2 separate regions of the Homo sapiens genome follow, and region 1 is linked to region 2. The links come from fine-mapping of genetic effects on gene expression. A gene starts in region 2. The other region holds a variant in brackets. All regions are shown on one strand. Distances are from middle to middle. Region 1 overlaps TMBIM6 (transmembrane BAX inhibitor motif containing 6). Region 2 holds the start of PRPF40B (pre-mRNA processing factor 40B).

Region 1 (5,377 bases), 130 kb before region 2:
AGACCTCCACTCAAAAAACCCAGCAAAATCACCAATTAAAAGCACAAAAATACAAAGGAAGTGGCACTAAATGACCATGAAAAGAACATTTGTTTACAATACGAGAACTGAAACAAGAAGGCAGAGCACTGTCTTGTTCAACCTCAGCTGAAAACACTGCAACAGCAGGGTGACTCAACTTTTTCACCACTCTGTGACTGTCTGCAAAAAGTGCCATGAGTAACAGAGCGAGACTCTGTCTCAAAAAAAAAAAAAAAAGTGCCATGAGTATTGATTTTGGGGTTACAAATTTTAATGAGTAGGTGAATTCACAAATATAGAGTCTGTGAATAACAAGGATTGACTGTATTTTACTAAATTATTTAAGGGCTAACCTTGCCTAAAACTCAAGCGATCAAAGCCCTATCCTTTGAGTGTCTAAAGTAATTTTTCACACAATCCCTGCCAGGAGATGCCTGAACATAAGGATAGTTCTCAACAGTGGCAAATGCCAACAGAGGCCCACCTCTACATTTATGCTAAAAGGAATACTCTACAAAGGCACAAGACTATGTTAGGGAGTCTTCAAACTTTCTGGTTATTCCTCAAACTGTACCTTCTACTCCTGCTGACCAAACCCAGATTCTCTCTCAATACAGGAAAACAAATTGTTGAAGGTTTTTACCCAACCATGCAGACAACAGTTATCGGAAAATAAAACAGGTCAATTCCTTAAAAAGATCTCAATCCTGCCTCTCCTGATAGTTAATCACACAATCAGAGTTTTGTAAAGGAAGAATGGAGGAAAAGATAAAAAAGCTTCTGTGCCAAAGAATCCCAGCATGCATGCCATGCGCCTACTCAGTGGGTGGGGGTCTTGTACGTCAGCAGCACACCATTCAGTGCCAAGGTTAAGGCATTCTGTTTTTCGGTATCTAGAGGGGGCACAGTTGCCAGAAAATTAAAATGGCTTTACATGTCCTGATTTAATGTCTGAGTTTAAATCCTAAACTACTGATAAAGATTAAAGAGAGGAACAGGGTCCCTTGGACCACCTTGCTGAGCTGGTTTTTTCCTAATGTAATTTGTACCACAGCAACCAGGAGAGAAAATCGTTCTTACCTGAATGAAATGAGTGACCATATGGACATAGGCCCCTGCAGCCGCCACAAACATACAAAGGGCAAAACTTGCATAGACCTTCTTCAGGTGCTGCTGCGTTGACGGGGTTCTAAGAAAAGAATGTGAATAAGAGCAATCAGTCCCAGATCAATCTCATATTTAAGCTAAGAAGAATCATTTCTCTCTTTCCCTTCCTGGGAATATGTAAAAGTTCTGTTACAAATAGTTTGAAATACTTTTAGGAAAGCATATTACAATAAAAAATAATATTTTGAAAATAGGTTAACAGAACCTTAAATGCTGAGGAAGACCAAATGCCCAAAATTATGAATAATCAGTACCCAAACTAGAATAAATGCCTTTCCAATAACCACACAGCAACGTGTAGAATTTGGACATTTTCATCAGGTCCTCTGGATTCTGGCCAAGTTAATTTGTTAGCTTATACACACAAAAGTTATAAATGCAGAAAAGGGACAAAGAGATATGAAAAGAAATGCAGTACAAAACCAGTCAAGGTCAAAACACTTACATATGAGAAAATTTTAAAAGCGCATCAAAGTTGATCTTTCGATCAAATATGTTCATGGTTCCAGAGTCCGTGCAGCAGTCTCCACTCTGCAGAATAAAGAAAGGTTAGAGTCATTAAGTCATACAGAATCACACGAACAGCTTATAAAAAAAAAAAAAAGCAACATGTAAGTTCAGAAAGATGAAAACTTGCCTAAAATTCTACAGCCCTAACACAACCATTTTTATTTTTATGTGTCCTACAATATATTTGCAATCATAGTCAACCATCTTAAAGACGACAGAGGAATTGAATGCATCTTCTTCTCCCTCAAACTATTTTGTTACTATCATCTGATTTCTATTCTTTCAGGTGATTTGCCACTTTAAAAGGCAGTAAGTTTATAAAAGAAATTCTCAATTAACAATCTAGTTAAAGGAACCTAGACATTGGCACATAAAGCAATTTTATGTCATTGTTTCAAGATGCTAAAGAATTCCCTTGGCTGGGCATAGTGGCTCACTGAGGCCTATAATCCCAGCACTTCTGAGAGGCTGAGGTGGGCGGATCACCTGAGGTCAGGAGTTCGAGACCAGCCTGGCCAACATGGTGAAACCCTGTCTCTACTAAAAATACAAAAATTAGCTGGGTGTGTTGGCACACACCTGTAATCCCAGCTACTCAGGAGCCTAAGACAGAAGAATTGCTTGAACCTGGGAGGCAGAGGCTGCAGTGAGCCAAGACACGCCACTGCACTCCAGCCTGGGCAACAGGGCAAGAGTCCATCTCAAAAAAAAAAAAAAAAAAAAAAATTATCTCACTAGCAGCACCTCAAAGATAAAAAACAAAACTTTGACTAGTCTTAACAAAACAAACAAAAACTATAAAGCTGGGTCTGGCATTAAGACTTGCATTTTAAATATATGCGTATCAAATTTTCTTAACCTAACACATTTAAGAACTGAAC[T/C]GAAAAGGACTCACAATTTTAAAAAAAGAGAGGTTCCTACCTCCATAAAAAAGGAATTTATGCAGAAAGGAGGATTTTTTGGGGGGTATTTTTTTGACAGTTTCAGAACCTTTCCTACAGAAAGGTTAGAACAGTACAAAGAATTCCTGTACAACCTTCACCCAGATTTCCTAAATGCTAATATTTCACATTTGCTTCATCTTCTTTCTATATAGCAATATATAGACAGATGTAAAAATATTTTTTCCCTAACCATACAGACACAGTGCTCCTAAACACTTCAGTGTGTATATCCTGAAAGCAATGATCAAAATCAGGATATTAATACTAATGCAATACTATTTCTAATCTGCAGACCTTATTCAGATTTTTGCCAACTGTCCCAATGTCAAAAAGGGCATTTTTAAACTGAACTATATCCAGGTTAGATCATATCAACACCATAAAGTCAAGTTCTTAAGTTTTGCTCCCTCCCCTATTTCACATGCAATCCTAAGTAAACGTGTTCAATCTACAGTACTAAAGATCCAGTCAAGAACTTTCATCTCTTCTAAATATAAATCCTCCAAACTCCTATCAGGGCCATAATGCCCATCCATTTTAAATCTACCAGAAAAGGAGGGGCAGGGAGGAAGGGATTCAAACATAAAGTTGTGTGAAACGCCACCTACTGAATGAAGCACTCTAATCAGCACCCAGCCCAACACTCAGAACAATTCATCTAGGTAATAATAAAAGTTACAGTCCCCAAACAAATTTCCTAAGGAATCCTGGGCCAGTGGAAAGATATAAACATCATCTGCTTCCTGAGGCTCTCTCCCACAAATGAAACAATCACAATGGCTGGCTTGCTTTCTCTGGTTTCTTCTTTCCTTCTCTCATTAACATCACTACTCACCTCAGAACTTTTGTTAATTCTGTTCTTAAGGACAGATACAGTGAGAAGCTGCAGAACCTACTAAGGTTGTTGCTCTCTCCTCTGAGTCACACGGATCTGGGCCCTCTTGATCTAGATGGTGCAATTATTGCAGGTTGTTACAAGGCCAACCACAGCCTTCCATAACCAAGATGAATATGACTATGTCCTCTAGAGAGCACACTTACAGCATGGCAGAATTCAGCACCTGGAAAGTGTCTTTGTTTAAGGTTTCCCATTAACACCCCTAATGACATCCCTAGACAGCACTTACAATAATACTGAAGCAACTTTCAGAGCCAAGTTTCTCAGTATTCACAACAGCAATGCTAAAGAACCTCTTGCTTCCAATTACAAGAATTAAAGAAAGGTAAGGGATGGAGCGGGGTGGATCCTCAAACGCCCAGGGGATTCTAAGAAAGAGGCAATGCTCATGTAACCAGACCCTGCTTGGCGGAATCTGTTCGAGGGGAGAATGGCAGAAACTCCCCTTTCTCAGATACTTCTCTGACGTTTCCCAGGGGGTACTGACTGCCTCTTTCTGGTTCTCTCTTAACAACTGTTGATGGAAAAACCAAAACCATCAAAGGCTGTGTGGGTTGGGGCAGGGGGATGAGATGTCAAACGGCAATTTCACTTTGATTTAATAGAAGCTTGTGGTTTGAAATCATTAAAAAATAACTAAAACTTCTGTTTTTCAATATCAGTATTTCAAAATTTAAAACAAAACATGTAACTACCAAATATTATAGACGCAAAAGGGCACAGCAATTTTATTAGCTTTATGGAGAAAAAAAAGAAACCTGGTAAAGCAGATGGTCCCTGACTTACCAGGGTTGACCTATCACTGGGAGAAATTGATACTCATTCGGTACACTCCTTGATTTGCGATGGCTTACATCTGGATACACCCATTGTAAATTAAAAATATCGTTGACTCAAAAATGACTTACAGGTTGGGCACAGTGGCTCACGCCTGTAATCCCAGTACTTTGGGAGGCCGAGGCAGGTGGATCACTTTGACGTCAGGAGTTCGAGACCAGTCTGGCCAACACGGCGAAACCCTGTCTCTACAAAAAATACAAAAATTATCTGGGCATAGAGGCACGCCCCTGTAGTCCCAGCTACTTGGGAGGCTGAGGCAGGAGAATCACTTGAATCCAGGAGGTGGAGGTTGCAGTAAGCCGAGATCACACCACTGTACTCCAGCTTGGGCAACACAGCGAGACTCCGTTTCAAAAAAAAACAAAAATGACTTACAAAAAGAAAAGGACTTACATTTTCAACTTACGGTATTTTCAACTTATGATGGGGTTTTCCAGATGCAGCCCCGTCTTGAGGAGCATCTGTATACATTTAATGTATATGACACAATGTACAGATGACAATTTCAGAAATGTTAAAATGTGAGAGGGAATACATAGGTCTTAGAATCAAAGAAATATGATAGTTTGCTCTAGAGCTGTTCCAAATAGACAAGAATATACAGATAAGTAATGAGATCAAACTGTTCTGACAAGTTTTGCCAGATAAAATAAACTTACCAAGTTTCAATCTTAGCTTCAACTAGCGAAGCTCAGAAAAGATACCTACATTTCAATGGCCGATATGCAAACTCAGCCAAACAAGATTAAGTTGCACTTAACTCAAAAATAGCAGCTCTCATATCAAGTATTTTCCATTCTAGGAGCAATCAGCTCTTAAGAGCTTGAAGTATTATATTCAGTACCATTAACCAAGTAACTCGCTAACATTCCAGAGGAGCCCACAGTTAAATGAAAATCTTTGTTTTAAAAAAACACATTAAAATGTTATAGTTTACCACAATAAAGAAAAAAAGTACATTACAAGCTGCTAAAAAATTCAATACAGCAGTCCTTTC
Region 2 (5,377 bases):
ACTTTGCAGAGTGACATGCTACTCTGTGAATGTTTGCTGGGTGTTTCATGTGGGACTGCTTGTCTCCCACTCATGTGGGGATTTCCCTACATTCAGGGATTGAGTTTTCTCCTTTTATACCTCCCCCAAGTGTTTAGTCAGGGCCCTGCACACAAAGTGCTGTGATAAAATGCAGTCTCATCTCTAACCTTATTAGATTTTTGCATACTGGAATATCCTAAAATGCACTTTGAAAACAGTGTATACACGTGTGCATATGTACATCTGTATAAATTCTCTGACATACAGGCTGTGACAGAGAGAGGTAGCTTGGCAGAAGTCTTTGTGGCTTGGAAAAAGGAAATTGGATTGAAATGTTGGCATGAGAAAACCTAATAAAGCTAACTGTATACAGTCATCTTCAACTTGGGATGAAGACCTCTGGCCAGGATTCAGACACTGGCCTATTCTGGACAGTTCCCCACAGAGGACAGAACAATGGAATAAACATAAACTACTACAGAACTTCCAAAGCCCTTCCTTCGCTGAGCTTCCCGTGTTGTGTCCCTGCTTTCCTGAAACACCCCGTCCCTCTCCTACCTGCTGCAGTGCCATAAAACTTTGGGTCTTATTTTATTTCTGGGTGAGAATATGAAGACATTAACTAGTGACAGGGAAGGATATAGAAATGGTTGCTGAAAGAGAAGCAGATCCTGTGTCTTCCCTGGAACAAAAACACATTTGTGGGCTGAGAGATGATGAAGAGACACTTGATCATCTGATCATCATATGTTCACCTGGGCCAGTGAGGGGCCACCCCTTTCCCACCACCAAAGATGCAATCAATACTTCTGGGACTTCACATCTAAGGGGCATCTCAGAACTTAGCACTCAGAAGAATAAAAGGAGAAAAGGACAAGAATGGAGAGGCAGTAGGAAAAAAAACAGAAAGAGGGAATGATAACAGCTAATAGCTAATATTTACTGAGCACTTATTATGAGCCAGATACTGTGTCAAACACTCATTTAATCCTGGCAACCATCTCAGAGGTTATTATTCCCATTTTACAGATAAAGAAACTGAGGTTCAGAGATTAAGTAACCTGACCAAGGTTCCAAGACATTAAATGGGAGAGGCAGGTTTGGAATCCAAGCAGTCTGACTCCAAAGCCTGTGCTTTCAACCAGTTCACAAAGCTGCCTCCCAGCAAGGATGATGGCGCCACAGATGATACTGCTTACATTCAGATACATTTCCTTTTTTCTTTTTTAACCCCAATCCTTACACAATCCAGAAATCCTCAGCGAGCCAGGTGTTCCCAAGGTCTGCTTGGTCTGACTCATTCCCACTTCCTGAAGATGAAGGCTGGGAGGCACATCTCTCAGAAAGTGGTAGCCATCATCAAAAAAAAGGCTGAGAGACCAGCTGGTTACCCTGTGATCTACCTGCGGCCCTTCTTCAGCTGCCCCAAACAGCACCTGCCCTTCCGTTTCAAAGACCATCCTAGTTTCCAACTTTCCTGGACCAGCCCTACTCTTCCTCTTGCTCCCCAAAGATCTGCCTTACTAGAAAGTATCTTCCTGTTGCTTTTTTTTTTTTTTTTTGAGACAGAGCTTCGCTCTTGTTGCCCAGACTGGAGTGCAATGGCGCGATCTCAGCTCACCACAACCTCTGCCTCCCGGGTTCAAGTGATTCTTCTGCCTCAGCCTCCAGAGTAGCTGGGATTACAGGCATGGGCCACCACGCCTAATTTTGTATTTTTAGTAAAGACAGGGTTTCTCCATGTTGGTCAGGCTGGTCTCCAACTCCTGACCTCAGGTGATTCGCCCGCCTCGGCCTCCCAAAGTGCTGGGATTACAGGCATGAGCCACCGCGCCCGGCCCCTGTTGCTTCTTTCTGATCCTGCCATCTCATCACTCTCCCTCTGAAGAAGCGAATGTTACTTTTGGTCTCCATCATTGTGGAGTTAGGTTTCAACCTCCTCCTCTCCTTAGAGTTCTTCCATCCCTCCAACAGGATAAGGCTAGCCAGCCCCAGCCCGGCAGGCTTTCTGTCTACCATCCCCCCGCACCCGTGGGGATTTCTCCAGCCCCAGCCCAAGGCCTCGCCTCCATCTTCATCCTTTCCTTTGCTTCCCTACCAAACCCATTCTCCTAAACTTCCTCCTCAAAAACCTATTCATTTAGACCCTGGAAGAGATCTGGGATTTAATTTTCATGCATTTCCTTTTTAAAAAAATTGATGGGAAATCTGAGGCCCAAAGAAAGGTAGTGACTTGCCCAAGGTCACACAGAGTCGTTAGTTTGTTGATGGCCTGGGCTGGGAGCCCCTTTCTTCAGAGGCCCCCTCTCCACCTCAGGAGACAAGCTCTTGCAAATGCAGGAAGGTGAAGCAGGGAGTCCCCAAGTGGTCTGAGGAGCACCCAGGCTTCCAAAGGGAACGGGCGCTGGGGCTGGGGGAAGGGCATGTCGCACACCAAATATCCCAGGAGGGGAAACTGGTCCCCACCTGTCCCCTGGTCCCCTCAGTCCCCTCATCTCCGCCCTCTCTCTTCTTTCCCGATCTTTCTCCGCGAACCCACCCCCACCTCTCCCAATCCCACTCTTCACCCAGTCCCGCCACTCTCGCACCTTTCGCCCCCGGCCAGGCTCCATCATGGCCTCCCCCGCCCCTTCGCCCCCAGTCCCCGCCCCCATCCCCCCTCCCGGGCTCTCTTCCCTCACCCTTGGCCTCCCTCGCCCTCCCCGGGGTCCCAGCTATCCCCAGCGGCCTCCCCGCCCCATCGGCCACGGCCCGGGCCGCAGGGGGCGCTGTGGGACCGCCCCGAGCCCCTCCACCCCCGCGCGGGGATGTTACCATGCCAGAGCCTCCGAGCAGCTGGGCCGGCTCAGCCCACCCGCCAGTAAGAGCCGCTCTGATTGGCCAGGCCGCAGCCGGGAGGGCGGGGCCGGCGGGGGGTCGCACCCCTTCGTGGCCGGGGCTCCGGTGGCTCCCGCCGGCGAGCGGGGCCCCAACCGGCCCGGTGTGTTCGGTCCCGGCCCCGCCCCCCCGGCACGGAGAACCAGGCCCCGCCCCCGCGCCGCCGCGTCCCGGGTCCGCCCCCCGGGGGGCGGGGCACGCCTGCTCCCGCCTCTGACTGACGGTCGGGGGCCGGCGCCTCTGCCTCTCCCCGCTGCCTGCGTCCTGGCTTCGCAGTCGCCGGCGCTCCAGGAGCCGAAGCGTTCACGCAGTGTGTAGGGTGCCTTTGCGCTGCACAGCGAATTTAATTTGCTGTGTAGCTCTTTTACAGTACTTTTAAGTTAGTTAACTCCAGAACTATTTGTTGAGCACCTGTGAGGTGGCAGGGTCTGTCTCAGGGACTGAGCACACAGCAGCTTGGAAAAAAAAAAAAAAAAAGACAAATCCCCGAAATCACGCCCTTGTGGGGCGTACACGTGCTTCTCGCGTGACCCTGAAGTTCACTTTTGGGACCTGGCTCCCACTGAGCGCTGAACTCATGAGAGCAGGGCCCACTCTTTGACAGAAGTTAAAAATGTGAGGTACATGCTTGCTGTGCGGCTGAGGAAACTGTAACCTGGAGCTCTGCGGGGAATGCGCTGAAGGCCTTGGGGCTGGAGAGTGACAGGCCCCAGGCACACGGGTGCAGAAAGGCGCTGACCGCCAGCCTGCAAAGCCCCGCAAAAGGCGCTTCCTGTTCCCTTTATTCCCCCCTCACCTGAGCCGGGACTCGCGTGATGCCGTGCTAGGTTCCTGAGAGCCAAAGAACTCCGGAGAGGTAGAAAAACTCCTGACACGAAGAGTTAGAGGTGACACCTGGGAGGAAAAGGAAGTGGGATTCACCCTTGTGGGCTGCTGTAGAGAGAAAATGCTTTGTGGTTTAATCAAAATGATACCCACATGGTCTCAAATGAAGGCCCAGCTCTGCGGTTTTCTTTTCTTATTTGAGGCAGCGTATTGATCTGTCACCCAGGCTGGAGTGCAGTGGCACAATCAGGGTTCACTGCAGCCTCAGCCTCCTGGTCTCAACCGGTCCTTCTCCCTCAGCCTCCGAGTAGCTGGGACTACAGGCGTGTGCCACAACGCCCGGCTAATTTTGTAACTTTTTGGAGACGACGTCTCCCTGTACTGCCCACGCTGGGTCCTGTGGTTTTCAAACTTTTGGGGGAGGTGGGGTGAGGAGACTGGCGCGCGGCCCGCAGCCGCCGCCGCGGCAGGAGAGGGGAATGGAGGGGGCGGGCGGGGGGAGGAGGACGGACCACCGGCGGCCTCTCCACCGCTCCCACCTTCCCCCGGGGGCTGCCGCGATGCCAGCGCAGCTGGGGCGATTTTCAAACTATTATTGAGATCTCTAAGTATAGCAGAAGTGGTCCAGAGGTTCCGTGAACTTTCATGAATTGCATTTTTATTTTTTAAATGCTTTTCTTTTCTTTAATGAAATATTTCTTAGAACATGTACACACATATAGAATCGAATAATTGTACCAGATTTGTTAAGACAAACAGCAGAGCCCTGCCCCCATCGTCTTCCCCTCTCTGGAGGCAACGTTTTCACCTCTTTTAGCTGTTTCTTCTGGCATTTACCTTCACATCTCCGGCCTTCCCCCAGCTGCAGCCCTCCCCACAGGGCAAGGGGTCCAAGGGGATTTGCCCATGCAAAGCACACTTGCCCAGGATTAGACCATATTCTGAATACCTAGGACCCTGGAATTCCCTGCCCAGCTTCCTCCTTGGGTCTGTCCTCCCCAGGGAGACCTTCTGTTTTTTCCTGCACAAACTTTTATTTTTCCTGGAATTAATAATCTTGTTTTTTAAAATCATTTATTTTCTATGTATTTCTCACAAACTCTACCTCAAATTCTTCCCCCAGTTGCTTAAATTTCCTCTCAGAATATCTAGATATAGCAGAGAATTCTCTCCATTTCATCTTCTTGAAGACATCACTGCTGGAGACTGCTGACCTTCTCCAATCTGACTGTTCATCCCCTCACCTTGCTGCACATCTGGCAACCTGGCATCTCTTTTCTCATTCTCCTGGGCATGTTCTTTGCCTCATTCTTTTGTTGTTGTTGTTTTGTTTTGAGACAGAGTCTCGCTCTTGTTGCCCAGGCTGGAGTGCAGTGGCTCACTGAACCTCTACCACCCGGGTTCAAGCTATCCTCCTGCCTCAGCCTCCCAAGTATCTGGGACTCCAGGCATGCGCCACCACACCCGGCGAATTTTTGTATTTTTAGTAGAGATGGGGTTTCACCATGCTGGCCAGGCTGGACTTGAACTCCTGAGCTCAAGTGATCTGCCTGCCTCGACCTGGCAAAGTGTTGGGATTACAGGCGTGAGTCACTTTGCCTGGCTGCCTCACTCTTCTGTGGGATTTTTATTTGCCATATTCTATGCTTTTCTT

The links. PIP is the estimated chance that this variant, and not a neighbour inherited with it, causes the effect. A credible set is the group of variants that fine-mapping cannot tell apart.
Region 1: its variant is the best candidate, but not a certain one, in a credible set for the expression of PRPF40B in whole blood (INTERVAL, PIP 0.70).

The regions. Positions count from the first base shown.
Region 1 is chr12:49,748,806-49,754,182 of GRCh38, reverse strand. It overlaps TMBIM6 (transmembrane BAX inhibitor motif containing 6), which reads right to left. Exons shown (of 10, transcript NM_003217.3): 2 at 1,634-1,719; 3 at 1,102-1,210. The coding sequence starts at 1,689. Among named protein-coding and RNA genes, the nearest start is that of TMBIM6, 9.9 kb to the right of the region's middle. RefSeq lists an enhancer at 243-332. The variant T/C (reference allele first, on the strand shown) is at 2,580.
Region 2 is chr12:49,621,052-49,626,428 of GRCh38, reverse strand. PRPF40B (pre-mRNA processing factor 40B) reads right to left here and starts at 2,868. Exons shown (of 26, transcript NM_001031698.3): 1 at 2,836-2,868. The coding sequence starts at 2,838. It also overlaps a transcript of FAM186B not described here. RefSeq lists silencers at 2,653-3,152, 4,013-4,062 and an enhancer at 3,733-3,822.